Regions from separate parts of the Homo sapiens genome. Here region 1 is linked to region 2. The links come from fine-mapping of genetic effects on gene expression. Tissue or cell type: whole blood. Region 2 holds a variant in brackets; the other region holds the start of a gene. All regions are shown on one strand. Distances are between the middles of the regions.

What was found. PIP is the estimated chance that this variant, and not a neighbour inherited with it, causes the effect.
Region 1: SMIM3 starts here. The variant in region 2 is fine-mapped to the expression of SMIM3 in whole blood (TOPMed, PIP above 0.99).

What each region holds. Positions count from the first base shown.
Region 1 is chr5:150,775,462-150,783,570 of GRCh38, forward strand. SMIM3 (small integral membrane protein 3) reads left to right here and starts at 3,296. Exons shown (of 2, transcript NM_032947.5): 1 at 3,296-3,511. LOC124901110 reads right to left here and starts at 4,940. Exons shown (of 2, transcript XM_047417995.1): 1 at 4,446-4,940; 2 at 1-4,090. The coding sequence starts at 3,660. The coding sequence ends at 3,019. RefSeq lists a silencer at 3,191-3,380 and an enhancer at 3,818-4,679.
Region 2 is chr5:150,850,490-150,858,598 of GRCh38, forward strand. It overlaps a transcript of IRGM not described here. Among named protein-coding and RNA genes, the nearest start is that of IRGM, 8.0 kb to the left of the region's middle. The variant A/C (reference allele first, on the strand shown) is at 3,837.

The DNA.
Region 1 (8,109 bases), 75 kb before region 2:
ACCTTGGAAATTAAGTTGATATATTACAGAGTAACATAATCATTGATGATATAAACTATTTAGGAAATTCAGTTTAACTACAATCTCCATGATAAAACACTCTCCATCACTCTCTCATCATCTTGCTTTATGTTCTTCATGGTTTCGCAAACCGGTATCATCTTGCTTATTTATTTGCTTACTTATTTTTTGTGAATATTTTCCCAGTAGATGTAAGCACAATAAATAAAGATAATTTGTCTTCCTTAGTGCCTAGAACATGTAGGAGATATTCAATAAATAGCTTTGAATGAAGGAATACAGTAAGTCCTCACTCAGCCTCCTCAACAGGTTTTGGACACTTTGATTTTGAGTGAAACTATGTATAAGGAAACCAATTTTACCATAGACAAATGGACAGAAAGAAGAGTTAAGTTCCTACAGCATATTTCTGATAACAAAAGTACCACCAAACTTCTAAATAAAGACTAAAACACTTCCAATATTGAACACTGAAATAATTGTGAACCATACATACATTTAAGAAAGATTAGTAAAAACAAGGAAGAGAATTATTTACCTGCTTATTCCAGTTTAGAGTTCAGTGGCCAGAGCCTGTCCCGGCAGCTCAGGGCTCGAGGCAGTAACCAGCCCTGGACAGGACGCCATCACATCGCAGAGCAGACTCACCCACACCCACAATCGTTCACACTGGGACTACATAGACACAGCAGTTTGCCTAACATGCATATCTTCGGGATGTGGGAGGAAACTGACCGGGGTACCTGGAGAAAACCCAGGAAGACATGGGGAGGACATGCAAATGCCACACAGACGGTGATCCCAGCAGGGAAACAATTTTTTTTCCTCATCAACGTTATAACAGAAGGATGTTATTCAGGGGTCTGCTGTATATGAATAAAATATTTACTCATCATAATTGTACCAGATGTGAGGAATAGGTCTCATTTTACTATTTTATGGAGCTTGGGTGGGCTACTGGGTGACAGACTCGAAATACTGGTTTTCTGATTTCTAATACAATATGTCATATTATTCCCCAAAAGTAAATAAATATATTTGTACAAGTGAAAAATGAAAAGAAAATGTCTCGTGTAGATATGATTCTTAAAGAGGGTATTTGCTATGGATTGCATCCTAATGGGGGCCTCTTTAGGCAGTGGTTTGTTTGTTTGTTTGTTTGTTTGTTTTTTGGAGACAGAGTCCCACTCTATTGCCCAGGCTGGAGTGCAGTGGGGCAATTCGGCTCACTGCAGCCTCCGCTTCTGGGATTCAAGTGATTCTCCTGCCTCAGCCTCTCCAGTAGCTGGGATTACAGGCGCCCGCCACCACGCCTGGCTAATTTTTGTGTTTTTAGTAGATACAGGGTTTCACCATGTTGGCCAGGCTGGTTTCGAACTCCTGACCTCAGGTGATCTGCCCGCCTCGGCCTCCCAAAGTACTGGGATTACAGGCATGAGCCACTGCCCCTGGCCAAGGCCGTCTTTTGATGGCAGCCAATGTCATTAGACTACAACTTCTTCTGTACAAGTTCCCCAAAGTATCAGGGGCTCTCTAAGAGAGTATTACTTATTTCTTTCAGGTCCTGATGGTTTTCTCTTTGGAGTGGTTGTAATAGAGGACCAAGGAAGTTGTGAGCTGTTTTCTGGCTTTTGCTGTAACAAAAGCTTGTTGCTGAAATTGACTATTTCCCCCACTCCTGCATCCCAACACAGCATCCATTATTCTTCCCTTCAGTGCTCTCTTTGCAAAATCAGTCTAGCCTAGGCAGCAGACTTAACATGGTATGCTCCTGTGGGGATTCATACTTTATTTCTGGCTTGCTTTTAGGGTCCCAGGGCAAGTCGATATTAAAGAGATACTAATAAATTGCTAAATGGAAAGGGAGACTAGGACTCAGCTGGCTCCAGGCCTGAGCTTCTGCCTTGTCCCAGAGGGAAGCCAATGTTCACAGCAGGGCACATGGAGTTACCAGTTGTCCACCCAAAGGAACTCTCATCCCCTTCACTAACCAGGGAAAATGTCATATTAAGATTGTCCTCCTGTTGCAGTGAGCCGAGATCATGCCACTGCACTCCAGCCTGGGCGACAGAGCGAGACTCCGTCTCAAAAAAAAAAAAAAAAAAAAAAAAGATTGTCCTCCTTCAATCTTTTTTTACTATTAAATGAGAGCTTTGTATTAAACTATTCAGAATTGGGTTGTCCTTGTTTTTAGGTTCCCACACTATCTCTTTTGAATAAAACATGTTGTTGGGTGACAGCCCTTAGGGTTTTTCTCAAATCATTTCTCATGTGAATCCCCTTCATCCTCACTGTCCTTCCCTTAAGAAACTGGCGTGTGATAATGATGATTTAGAGGTCATTTCTGCTGACCTCATCCCTGAATCAGAGGAAACAGCATGGAGTAAGTTCTAAGTTCGGGGCCCACACCATATCAAATTTAGGCCTGGGGAAGGCAGTATGGCTCTTTCCAAACCCTCCAAAACACTACTGGGCTCCAAGACTGCTCAAGGTCTCACTGATAGTCAAGGCTTGTGCTCCTTTTTTTCAGAAGAGTAAGATTAAAGAAAACCACTGTGAATTAAAAAGTGTGGGTGCCAACATGGGACGGGAGTCCCCCCTCACTCCATGGATGACATAGAGGGGGCAGAAGATTACAGAATTGGCATTGTCCTGCGTGGAAGCTGGGCCACCCACAGTGGCGTGGGAAGCCTCTCAGATGCTGGATTCTAATGGGCTCTTGATCACCTTGGATTGGGCTATTTCATTGTTATCACAAAATAAACAGGATGCTCCAAGTCATGTTATGGCAGAGAACCAACCAGCTTCACACTGGTCCTCTAAACCAATCCTCACAACAGGACTGGGAGACAGGTGTTACCTTTCCCACTTTACAGAGAATGAAACAGAGTGGCAAAGCCTCCGAAGGACCCTACACTTCGGACATCGCAAAGCAGGATCTGAGTCCCGGCTCCTCTGTCCAAACCTACTTGCTAGGCTTTCTTTCCCATGTCTACTCTATAGCTGGAAAGGTCGTGGAGGACACATTTTAGGCCAACCCTCTCGGTTTACAATCCAGAGAGGGGAGACCCTCAGAAGCCAAGCGACATGTCCACGGCTACGCGGCGAGTGTGTGGCAACGTGGAAGGGGAGCCCGAGACGCCCTGGTCTCTCCCTTCTCTCGCAGGTTCCTTTCTCCCCGAACGCAGCCCGCAGGGGACGCTGGAGGAGGAGCTGAGCTGGAGTTGCCGGGGCCCCGGGACCGGGCGTTCCGGGGGCGGTCCCCAGCAGCCGCGCATTCCAGAGCCAGCAGCGCGTCCTGGCCGCTCCTGCGCTCTCCCGCCTCCCGGGGCTCGGAGGAGCCGGGGCACGTTCCAGGAGCTGCCTAGGGCTGAGGTTCCAGGCCTGGGGGTCGCTTCCAGCTGCCAGATCCCGTGCAGTCCTGGGGACCCTGAGAAGCACCGAGCCATCCCTGACCCAGGAACTTTCCGCAGACTCGCCGCCATCTGGGGTGAGTGGGGCCACCGGGGGATTGTTTGTGGGGCTCTGGCAGAGCGGAGCTCTTCGGATTCGCGACCTACCTCTAGTGCGGCCCCTTTCCCCGGGCTCCCAACGTTCTTCTTTATGTCCGGTCTCTCCTCCCCATTTCTCCCTTTTCATCACTTTTGTATTTCTTGCCCTCACCCCCTCCTTTTTCTCCTGCTGTCAGCTCTTAAGTTCGAGCCTCCTAGTGCACAGAATTTTGGGCCTGGGGGAGGCGGAGCTTGGGTGGGCGAACCCCAGCCCCACTCGGAGACTGGCTTCTCTCCGGGTCCGCTGCCCTTGCCTTCTCGGGAAGCCTCCTCCTCGGGCAGACTGCCACCTCCTGGCTCTCCAGGCCCAGCGTCAGGGTTCAGCGCCCGGGCCTGAGCACCTGCTTGGGCGCTGCGCTGGGTTTGGGTCTTTGCACTTACCTGTCCCGCTTTTCTCGAGGCCCCGTGTAGAAGGCGCCAGGAGTTTGGAGTCAGGAGTGGCGGGTTCCAGCCCTGGTTCTGTCACTAACTGCTTCACCATCCTTGTTTTTCCATCAGTGAAATTGGGAAAACATTTTCTGCGTGCAGAAAGCAAAGGAGAAAGGACATGAGCAAAGTATCTTGGAGAGAAGGCTTCCTTCAAGCTCCCTCCTGCTGGTTAGCTGTCCCTTTCCTGAGGACGTAGTTGTTCCAGTTGCTGGTTGTTTTGCTCCCTAGTCTCCCCCATGCCAGTTTCTTGAGGGTAGGGACTGCCTGTCTATCGTCATCTCTGAGGCATTCTCAGCTCTTGGAGCAGGGCCTGGCTAACAGTAGGTGCTCCATACATATGTACTGAGTGAAAGGATGAAAGGTGTAACCCCCCCCGCCCCCCCCACAAATTGAAACAAACCTCAGGGGCTGTTATTCTGATTGAGGGCCAGGCTGGGCTCTTACTTATGCAGCTGCACTTGTTTCTTCTGGACCAGCTGGAATCCTGCTGCACCTGGGGGCTGAGGAGTCTCCGGTTCATCTGTGGTGAATACTAAGGTCCTCAAAGCTCCAGGGTGTGGTGGTGAAGGCTGCGCAATCACACAAGTATCAGAGATTCCTTGAACATCTGCTATGATGCGTGCTGCTACTGCAGTGGCCACATAGTTTGGAAGGATTGGGGATGCCTGAATTAGGTGGAGGTGGGAGCGGGAAGAACAGGTACTCTGGGGGTTAGGAGACCCTCTGAATTACCCTAATGGAGGCATTTCCCCTCTCTGGCCCTTGTCTTCCCTATCTGTAAAATGAAGACATGGGAGTGGAACAGATGTTTGTCTGTGGTTGAGCATGACATGCTCTTTGGTTTATGCAGGCCGCACAGCAGCCATCTAGACACACGCAAAGCAGCACAGCTGAGCTTTAGGACATCATGTGCTTCTGCAGTGACAACTGAAAAAAACTAAAAAGTGTTTTCCTGCTCCAGCCGGGACCTCCTGTTCCCAGCTGTCCTGGGACTGTGAATCATGCTGTGGGGGTTACAAGTCATGCTTCATGAACTCTCCCACAAGTGACCTCTCCGAACCTCAGAACTGTGGCTCCATGACACTAAAGATCTGGGGAGTCCCAGAGAACAGCCAGAGAACCACTGAGTCGCGGTGAGGTGTTAGAGATGCAAAACAAATGAGAGACTCTGGGGGCCTGTGGTCAGGTCAGATCCTGGGCCCTTGGGGGTGACAGACCAAGGGGATAAGGGCCAGTCACAGCCTCAGATGCTTTCTCAGCCATACGCCAATCCTTTAAACGTTGTGCCTCCATTTCTTCTCTATGGATTGAAACATGCAAAGGAAATACCTCCAAGGAAAGAGAATATCTTGGTTGGGTGTGGCGGTGGTATAAAAAATGGGCACGTGTACTCACAAACACAGTTTATTGAGGTATAGGAGTAAGTGTTGGCATTGCGACACCCTGCCTTGTCCTCCCCCACCCTGACTGGCCCAGTAAGCGGAATGATGTTATAATGATCATACTTGCCATTTACTGAGTACTTACTATAAGCTAGGCATGACTCTAAGCATTTTACTTGTATTAACTCATTTAGGCTTTACCACAATCCTATTAGGGAGGGACTGTCATCACCTCCATTTTATGGATGAGGAAACTGAGGTCCAGAGAGAGTGACTCACCCATGATCACACAGAAAGTAAGTGGCAGAGCTGTAATTTGAACGCAGGCACCCTGGCTCCAGGGCCTATTCTCTGAACTTCATTGGAATTGGGGGGAACTAGGTTCAGATCTTGCCTCTGTCACTTACTTTCAGGGTGACCTGAGAGAAGTTAAGTGAGAATTTGATAGTCACTGTTCTAGTGGATCCCTAGAGACCTAGTATCCTTCCAACTCACTAGGGAAACAGAAGGTGAACCTCAAGAGATAATGGAGACATCTAGCAGTAAAGGCTAAGAATTAGGTAGTTAGGAAGGGGAACTGCTCAGAAGTATAATTGCCTGGCACATTAAACAACAGCAAGCTAGATTCCACGTCTAAACCATATACTTTAAATTGCTTAGTTGTGTATAGATAGAGCTTCCTTATTTTATTGATTTGCACTCTGATTGGCTGATTGGATATGTTTCTTGCTAGTGACCCACTATATAGGATCATATTCAAGATTCTGGGGACCAGGACATAGATGTCTTTGGTGGTGGTGGTGGTGGGCATTATTCTGCTTTCCACACACATGAGGCTGACTTTGGGAGAGCGACCTGTTGAGGCTCACACATTGAGGCAAGGCACTACCACCGCCCGGTGCTCTTGCAGCTCTGTCACGGAGCACCCTGCCAGCACCTCTCATGGACAGTCTCCTTTGTTAGCCCGACACACAGCAGGCACTTAGTCACTGGCAAATAGCAATGATGGATAGTAGTGCCTTAAACAGGATGCTGGGGATTTGGCCTGGGCTTTCTCCTCTGCTAGCTCTCTGTTGGTTTCTAAGACTCTGTGATTGGCTGGGTCAGATGGTACGTGCGGTCTTACACAGCTCTGGCTGTGTTCCGATCTCTTTGAAATATCTTGGTGTTTTTCCATTTTTCCAGCCACAGAGGAGCAGATGGAAACTCAGGCAGGTCTGTAGTCTGTTAGGAAGTTTGGAGAGACAGGGGCCAGTTGGGGTGAAATGAGAACAGAGTGCTCCTTAGGGACTTTGGGTCATTGGAGAAAAGGCTGTGATTTGATTCATTTCACATTTTTGGTAGTTGTATGTCCTGTCCATTCCTTCCTCTGGCCCCTTTATTTGGACCAAAGGTCCCTGGTGAAATGACTGTGCTGGGTTGGTAAATGTTTGAGGCTGTTACACAGTGGGAGGAGAAATACTTCCAAGAGTAAATGTGAAGCTGGTATGTCCTTCTCATATTGGACTTGGCATGGGAAACCTGCCCCCACTTTTATCAGCCTCCCTGACCTCTTCTAAGAACAGAAAGATTCACATCTTGGGCAACATCACTGCTCCCCTCACCCCTGGTCCCTCCTCCCCACCTCAGTCCCCAGCTCCTGAGCACATGGAGTCAGAACTCGAATTTGAGCTTATCGGCCCAAGCAAATCAACAAGTGGGAATCCTAGAGGGCTTCGTTCTGAAAGGCCAGTTCTCTTCTGCCTGGTATGTACAGGGTGGGCTGGGGAAGAAAGAGCCCCCCATAATCCTTCCTGAATGTACAAAGAGCCCAGAAAATGATAAAATCAGAGGACATCATGTTATTTTGGAGATAGTGTTCTGACTTTTAGAATCACTGGGACTTTTGCAGGGATGAGGATTCTTTCTGGACCTCTTCAGTCAATTAGGTTCCACGAGTGAGCTCACATCTGAAATAATCTTCCCATATTCATTTCTTCATTGATTTCATATTTGTTGGCACTTGTGATATGCCAGGCCCTGTGATAGGTGCTGAGGACACAGCAATACACAAGAGGTGAGGCTTCTGCTCTCCCTGTGCTTGCGTTTGAGGGAGCAAATGAACAAGTCTTTAGCCTGATAGGAAAAAAGCCAATAAAAACAAACAAGCAACAAACAAGCTAATTTTAGATTGTGAAAAGCATATGCAGAAAATAAAACAAGATAAGAGTGATAGTTTAACAGAGTGGGTCGGGAAAAACTTTACTAAAACGTAACATTTAGGTTGAGGTCATGGACATTGAGACAATGGACAGGGGAGGAAAAGAGCATTCTGAGAAGGAACAGCAAACACAAAGTTCTTCAAGTGGGATCAGCCCCTGGGACACAGTTGTTAGGTTCCCCAGGCTACAAAGTGGCCAGTGTGGCCCCATCTAGGAACTTGAATTGCCCTCTCTGGCTTAAATGTTCCATTCTTCCTTGACAACCTCAGCAGCATCTTCTGAGGGTGGAGACTTTTTGGAAGGGGTCCTATAAGGTGGACAATGCTGGCAAACCCTCTAGTCCTGTGCCCTGGGAACCATCAGCCTTGTTCACATTCTGCAAAATACTTGAAGAGTCATGTATCTTTGGACGCCTCAGCATCAGTGACTTGGAGCTGGTTATAGCTGTCTGCTCTCTGGCCACCGTGGCTGGTGGAAACAAAACAGCAGCAGCATGGTCTGCCCAGAGTTCTGGCAGTGCTGGGC
Region 2 (8,109 bases):
TTCTGCAAGGATATTATGGTCATTTCTAAGGGGTAAGGGGTGAATAAATATGGAGTGGGAAGACATATTATTATGTACCCCCCTTTTTTGAGACAGGGTCTTGCTATCTTGCCTAGGCTGGAGTGCAGTGGTGCCATTATTAGCTTACTTGAGCCTCGAACTCATGGTATCTTCCTGCCTCAGCCTCCTGAGTAGCTAGGACCACAAGCACATACTTATTATGCCTGGCTGATTTTTAAATTTTTTTGTAGAGACAAGGTCTCACTATGTTGCCAGACTGGTCTTGATTATTCTGGTTTCCACCCCCTGTAGTGAGAGCGAGCCATGAGTTTTCCCTGCCTGGCTGTGCCTGATGTCAGCTCCCAGGCCCAGGAGGACTGCGAGGCAAAGACGGATGAAGGATTCTTGTACAGAGATATCTGAGTATTACTCAGCTGGCACACATTAGCTTTCTATTTTAATGAGCATTTTCAAATTTGAAAAACAAAATTCATCTCTACTTTTAACTGAAATGTGTTTGGAAATGTTAGTTTTGGTTTCAGTGAAGCCATGCAGGTAAGAAAAACCATCTTACTTGGACTGGAAAAGAAGGATAGATCAAATTTCAGGGCAAGAATTGACATGATAGTTGGGCAGGAACAAAGAGATAAAGGGAAGCCTGTGCTTTTGGTTGTACTCCCTACATATGGCCCTGGAACAGCAACCTGGTGATCTGATTACCATAAGCAGCACCCTCCTACCGTTGGTCTTGAAGGGAAGATGGAGCAGGTGAAGAGTCAGATAATGGCAGAGAATGCTGTAGGGTGTTGCATGCACTCCATCTTCCTCCCCCTTATCTGTCGTAGACATGATTGGTATGGCTGGTAAAGAATCATAGACCCAAGTGCATCAAATGTTCGCAATTTAGCATAAATAAGAGCATCAGGGGGACCTCATCAGGACAGGGATTCTTTTGATCATCCATGGTCCCCTAATGCACGACGGCAGGCCAGGTGTGGGGCAAACATTCAACTTTATAATAGACAAAATTTTTGTATATGATTGAATTTTTTGTTTTGTTCCTTTGAGAAGATGATATATAAAACTCAAATTTGGAGATTTGAATATAAAGGGCCATTGAATCATTTGTATATTTCTGAATCTTGCTTGATTCAATCCCTTGCCACTCCCAGCACTGCACTTCATCCGTGTCTTCACAAAAGGGAAAGAACTAGCAACAGCTTCATTACTCTTCCCTCCTTGTAACCACTGATGGTATTTACAAGCAGGAAGATTACCCAAGAAGTTCTCATCTAACAATGTTTTTAGTAGGCTTTTTGCATTGCTTATTGTAGATGAATCTGGAATTTGTGAAGTACAGGGCACAACTTGGAGAGCTAAAGTTAGTCATGTAGGTTTCCTACCTGTGCAACTAATGGAATGTAAAAAGCTCTAAACTTAAATGGCCTCCTAGGGCTAACATGTATGGCATGTACATGATACATACAGTAACATTAATCTCCTACTCAGGCACAAAGTACATTCCAGTGCAAAAATATATGTTTTTGGAAGTACATCTGATCTTTTGGGCCTTTTCAAAGATGGATATTGCTGTTTCTCTGCTTGCTTTTTGCTCATGTTCTTCATCAATTAGTAAAATTTGGTATTAAGTAAGCTGTATAATTTTCATAAATCTGCTTTGACAGTTTGACCTCCGTGGTAGCGTAATGACTAAATCAGAACTGTGCCATTCAATCAGCTTTTGGTGTACTTCTGACATTACTATAAATTCTTAGACTCAGCTTCTCATTATTATCTTATATTCTTATGTTTTAAAAACCTTAGTTCTTAAAGATTTCTTATTCTTATCTTTTCCTGCTACATTTGATTCCTTAGAGCAATCATTTGTTCTGATTAAACTATTAACGGAATTATTTTTTCTACCTAAGTTGCACAGGGGATGGACATTATTTCCATCTGGCTCACCTTATTCAAAATACTAAAACTATAATCAAAGCCCATTTTAGATAATCATCTCTTAATTGAGCTGTTTGTCCACTTCTTATTTCATGAAATTAGGAAATTGTTCACACATTCTCATTAAGAGCAGTGATGCCAGTGATGCAGTGTGGTATAAGGATGAAAGCTGGTACCCAGAGCATGGGATAAGCTAGAGAGAACTCTAAGGACATAATTTAAAGCCATATTCTGCAGAGAATGGAAAAGGCCAATTCTCCATTGAGGCTTCAGTTCTGGAAACTAATCTCAACAAGAATGTACCCTTTTTCATTCTCAACTCTAGGAACAAGCAGAAGAATCAAACAACTATTTCTATTTCGGGTTAGTTTGTCTATAATAATATCTCATTTCCTGGAGAAGTGTTTTAAGAGTGCATATTGTTGAATTTCTAATAGAAGAGAAAATAATATTGAGTTTCTTTACTGTATTTTTAGGCAACATTCTCAAATGAATTATGGTAATCTTTGCTCATATCTTTTGTTATTTTATTTTTTCTGCTATCTTTGGGTTTAGATCATTATTCTTCTAGTGCCTTAAAACATAAAGTTGTATTGTTGAACTGAAATCTTTTATCCTTTTAAAATGTAAGTATTTAAAGCTATAATTTTCCCTCTTCATACTGCTTTTACAGCGTCCCATTAGTTTTTGCAAATTGTGTTTTCATTTGTCCTAAGGTTTTTTCTAATTTTTCTTATTTAACCCATTGGTTGTTTAAAAGTGTGTTGTTTAATGTCCACATATTTGTGAATTTTCCAGTTTTTCTTCTGATATTTTCAGTTTTATTGCATAGTAATTGGGAAAGACACTGCATAATTTCAATCTTTTAAAATTTATTAACACTTGTTTTGTGGCCTAATGTATGGTCTCTCCTGAAGAATGTTACATATTCACTTAAGAAAAAAACCATATATTCTAATGGAATCTTGTTGGGTGAAGTGTTCTGCATGTGTCCAATTGGTCTGCAGAATTGTTCAAGACTGGTGGTTCTATCCAGCATTGAGAGAGGGGTATTGATATTTCCTACTATTACTGTAGACCTGTCTATTTGTTCTCTCCAATTTTATCAATGCTTGGTTAATATATTTTGGAGATACGATGTTTGGTACATATGTTTATAATTATTATATCTTAGAACTGATTCTTTTACTTACATGTAGTATCTTGCTTTGTCTCTTGTAACAGTTTTTAATTTAAATTTAACCTAGAGTCTATTTTGTCTGATATTAGTATAGCCACCCCTGCTCTCTTTCAGTTCCTGTTTGCATGGAATATCTCTTTCCACCCTTCCACTTTCACTTTCAAACTATGGTATCCTGAGATCTATAGTGAATCCGTAAAGTATCTATAAAAACAACATATAATTGTATCACATCTCCCCAACCCCATTCTACCAATATCTGCTTTTTGATTGGACAGAAACATCCATTTACATTTAAAGCAATTACTGATAAAGTGGAACTTCTGCCATTTTGATGTTTTCTCTTTGTCTTATAGCTTTTTTTCTCTCATTTCCTCAATTACTACTTTCCTTTGTTTTTAGTTCATTTTTTATAGTGACACATTTTGATTACCTTTTTATTTCCTTTTGTGTACATTTTGTGGATATTTTCTTTGTGGTTACCATGGAGGTTACATGTGACAGTACAAAGTTATAACAATCTATTTTGAATTAATACCAACTTGACTTCAATTGCACCCAACACTTTGCTTTTTTACAACTTTCCCTTCCTGCTTTGTTATGTTATTTCTGTCAAAAATCAATCTTTATATATGTTGTGTACCTATTAACATGGATTTATAATTATTTTTGTGAATTTGCCTTTTAAATTCTTTAAAAA[A/C]TAAAGTGTAGTTACAAGCCAAAATTATATAAAACTATTAGTTTTTATAATGTCCATGTATTTGCCTTTACCGGAGATCTTTATATTTTCCTATGTGTTCAAGTTACTGTCTATTGTCATTTTATTTCAACTTTGAAGGGCTGTCTTAACACTGATTATAGTGGAGGACTAGTAGTAATGTAGCCTCTTAGCTTGTTTACCTGGGGGTGCATTTATTTTTGCCTAATTTTAACAGGACAGTTTTGCTAAATACAGAATTCTCAGTTGACAAGTATTTTTCTTTTTCTTTTAGCACCTTAAATATATCATCTCTGTGCCTTCTGGCCTGCAACCTTTCTGCTGAGAAACTTACTGAAAATCTTATTGAGAATAGCTTGTATATGATGAGTCTGTTTTCGCTTGCTGCTTTTAAGATTCTATTAGTCTTTTAACAGTTTGATTACAATTTGTCCACTATGGGTCTTTTTGGCTTTATCTTGTGGTTCATACAGCTTCTTTGTATGTCTTTCCTCAAACTTGGGAAGCTTTTGGCTATTACTTTTTCAAAAAAATTATCTGCCCCTTTCTTCTCTTTCTCAAAGTCCCATAATGTTTTAAATGAGTAAAAACACAATAATTTTGAATATGACTTTTTCTTAATGGGAATTTACTTGGTTGCTCTTTTTTTCTGACTGTTTTTCAGAGTTTCTATAAAGTTATTTAAACCATCCATAGTATTTTTTTCTATGAATGAACAAAGGTTTGGAGGTTCTTAGCTTACCATTTTGCTGATATCCCTCAGTACTATGAACACAAGTAGGACCAAGACTCATAGCCTGGCTGCTAGCCAGCATTGCTTTGAGTTACACTTTTCAAAATTCTCCTACTTGGTGTAGCTCCTAGTATATCTTTGTTGATGAGGTAAATGAAATTCAACATGCAGAGTAATTTTTCTCAAACTTAGATTTATTTTCTAATTAAAAATAAATGTAATAATTGGCAGCTTAAAAATAAATGGAAGCACAGTGAAATTTTCTCATTTTTTTCTTTATCCTTAAGGAAGAGTTTGTTTTATTCATTATAATTTTGTGATGACTTAGTAAGTAGTTGAATTTTATTAAAATCAATGAAATGATTAATTTTTCTGTTGGCCACCAGAGAAGTGACTGAAACGGTTTCTCTTGCTGACTTAGATATTTAGTAGGCATATGGGAAGTGATCAGATTAGGAAGAATGTAAACTTATCAAAAAAGTGACAAGGAGGAATGGTAAGGTAGCCTTGAGGTCAGCGTACTAGGTCTGATTTTCCAACATGGTAGATTCTTTAAGGCACCTTCATCTTTTCACCACCTGTAGTTTGAGTTCACTTAGGAATGACATAGGGGCTCTTTCTTCAGGTTTTATTGACCTGAGTAACCTGGTTACCAGAGTGGAGCAGATAAAATGAGAAACAGTGAAATATAAACCACTAGTATGTTCACTGCAGCAAAAGAAAAATAAACTAGCCAAATGTGAAATAAGACTATTAGGAAGAAGGCAAAAACACAGAAACAATATGTTTTGTAAAAGGGGAAAATTTGATATCAATTAATTTAGACTTTCTGAAGCATTCTCTTAAAGAACAGTTTCTCCAGATGTTAATTAGGAGACACTCAATTTTTAAAAGTTAAAACATGTTTTAACTTCAAAACTCAAGAGATTTTAAAATTATAACAATAAATTATAAATCTCTAACAGCATTGACTATCATGGGGGAATATTTCAGAAAATAGTATTTTAAAAGTATGTATATATATGTCCAAATTTTATAAGTTAAATATGTGATTTAAAAAATAAAATGTATCAAGGCTGGGGGTGGCGGCTCATACCTGTAATCCCAGCACTTTGAGAGGCCAAGGCAGGTGGATCATGAGGTCAGAAGATCAAGACAATCCTAGCCAACATGGTGAAACTCTGTCTCTACTAAAAGTACAAAAATTAGCCAGGCATGGTGGTGTGCACCTGTGGTCCCAGCTATTCAGGAGGCTGAGGCAGGAGGATTGCTTGAACCTGGGAGGCAGAGGCTGCAGTGAGCTGAGATCGCACCACTGCACTCCAGCCTGGGCAACAGAGCGAGACGTTGTCTCAAAAATAAATAAATAAATAAAAATTATAAAATAAAATAAAATGTATCAAAATTCTACTCTCTCTAAGGGTGATTTTTAAACATTCTATTTATATTTGTGTATCCTCTATGTTAACTGTGATGTTGGTAATATTTTTTTCAATATCTACCAATTGGGGTAGTGTTCCTTCCATGACTTCCATGCACCAACCTTTAAAATACTGCTGCAGTTTTTTTATTTTTCAGAGACAGGGTATTGCTATGTTTCCCAGACTGGTCTCAAACTCTTGGGCTCAAGCAATCCACCTGCCTCGGCCTCCCAAAGTGCTAGGATTACAGGTGTGAGCCACTGCATGGGGCCTGCTGCATTTTCTTAATCCCTCTTCCTCATCCATATACATACACCTGCTGTGGATCCATCCATTTTCTTTTTTTATTTTATTTTATTGTTATTTATTAATTATTAATTAATATTATTAATTAAATATTATTAAATAAATAAATATTTATTATTTATTATTTATTATTTTATTTTATTATACTTTAAGGTTTAGCGTACATGTGCACAATGTGCAGGTTTGTTACATATGTATACATGTGCCATGTTGGTGTGCTGCACCCATTAACTCGTCATTTAGCATTAGGTATATCTCCTAATGCTATCCCTCCCTCCTCCCCCAACCCCACAACAGTCCCCAGTGTGTGATGTTCCCCTTCCTGTGTCCATGTGTTCTCATTGTTCATTTCCCACCTATGAGTGAGAACATGTGGTGTTTGGTTTTTTGTCCTTGCGATAGTTTGCTGAGAATGATGGTTTCCAGTTTCATCCATGTCCCTACAAAGGACATGAACTCATCATTTTTTATGGCTGCATAGTATTCCATGTTGTATATGTGCCACATTTTCTTAATCCAGTCTATCATTGTTGGACATTTGGGTTGGTTCCAAGTCTTTGCTATTGTGAATAGTGCCGCAATAAACATACGTGTGCATGTGTCTTTATAGCATGATTTATATTCCTTTGGGTATATACCCAGTAATGGGATGGCTGGGTCAAATGGTATTTCTAGTTCTAGATCCTTGAGGAATCGCCACACTGACTTCCACAATGGTTGAACTAGTTTACAGTCCCACCAACAGTGTAAAAGTGTTCCTATTTCTCCACATCCTCTCCAGCACCTGTTGTTTCCTGACTTTTTAATGATCGCCATTCTAACTGGTGTGAGATGGTATCTCATTGTGGTTTTGATTTGCATTTCTCTGATGGCCAGTGATGGTGAGCATTTTTTCATGTGTGTTTTGGCTGCATAAATGTCTTCTTTTGAGAAGTGCCTGTTCATGTCCTTCACCCACTTTTTGATGGGGTTGTTTGTTTTTTTCTTGTAAATTTGTTTGAGTTGTAGATTCTGGATCTTAGCCCTTTGTCAGATGAGTAGGTTGCGAAAATTTTCTCCCATTTTGTAGGTTGCCTGTTCACTCTGATGGTAGTTTCTTTTGCTGTGCAGAAGCTCTTTAGTTTAATTAGATCCCATTTGTCAATTTTGGCTTTTGTTGCCATTGCTTTTGGTGTTTTAAACATGAAGTCCTTGCCCATGCCTATGTCCTGAATGGTATTGCCTAGGTTTTCTTCTAGGGTTTTTATGGTTTTAGGTCTAATGTTTAAGTCTTTAGTCCATCTTGAATTAATTTTTGTATAAGGTGTAAGGAAGGGATCCAGTTTCAGCTTTCTACATATGGCTAGCCAGTTTTCCCAGCACCATTTATTAAATAGGGAATCCTTTCCCCATTGCTTGTTTTTGTCAGGTTTGTCAAAGATCAGATAGTTGTAGATATGCGGCATTATTTCTGAGGGCTCTGTTCTGTTCCATTGGTCTATATCTCTGTTTTGGTACCAGTACCATGCTGTTTTGGTTACTGTAGCCTTGTAGTATAGTTTGAAGTCAGGTAGTGCGATGCCTCCAGCTTTGTTCTTTTGGCTTAGGATTGACTTGGTGATGTGGGCTCTTTTTTGGTTCCATATGAACTTTAAAGTAGTTTTTTCCAATTCTGCGAAGAAAGTCATTGGTAGCTTGATGGGGATGGCATTGAATCTATCAATTACCTTGGGCAGTATGGCCATTTTCACGATATTGATTCTTCCTACCCATAAGCATGGAATGTTCTTCCATTTGTTTGTATCCTCTTTTATTT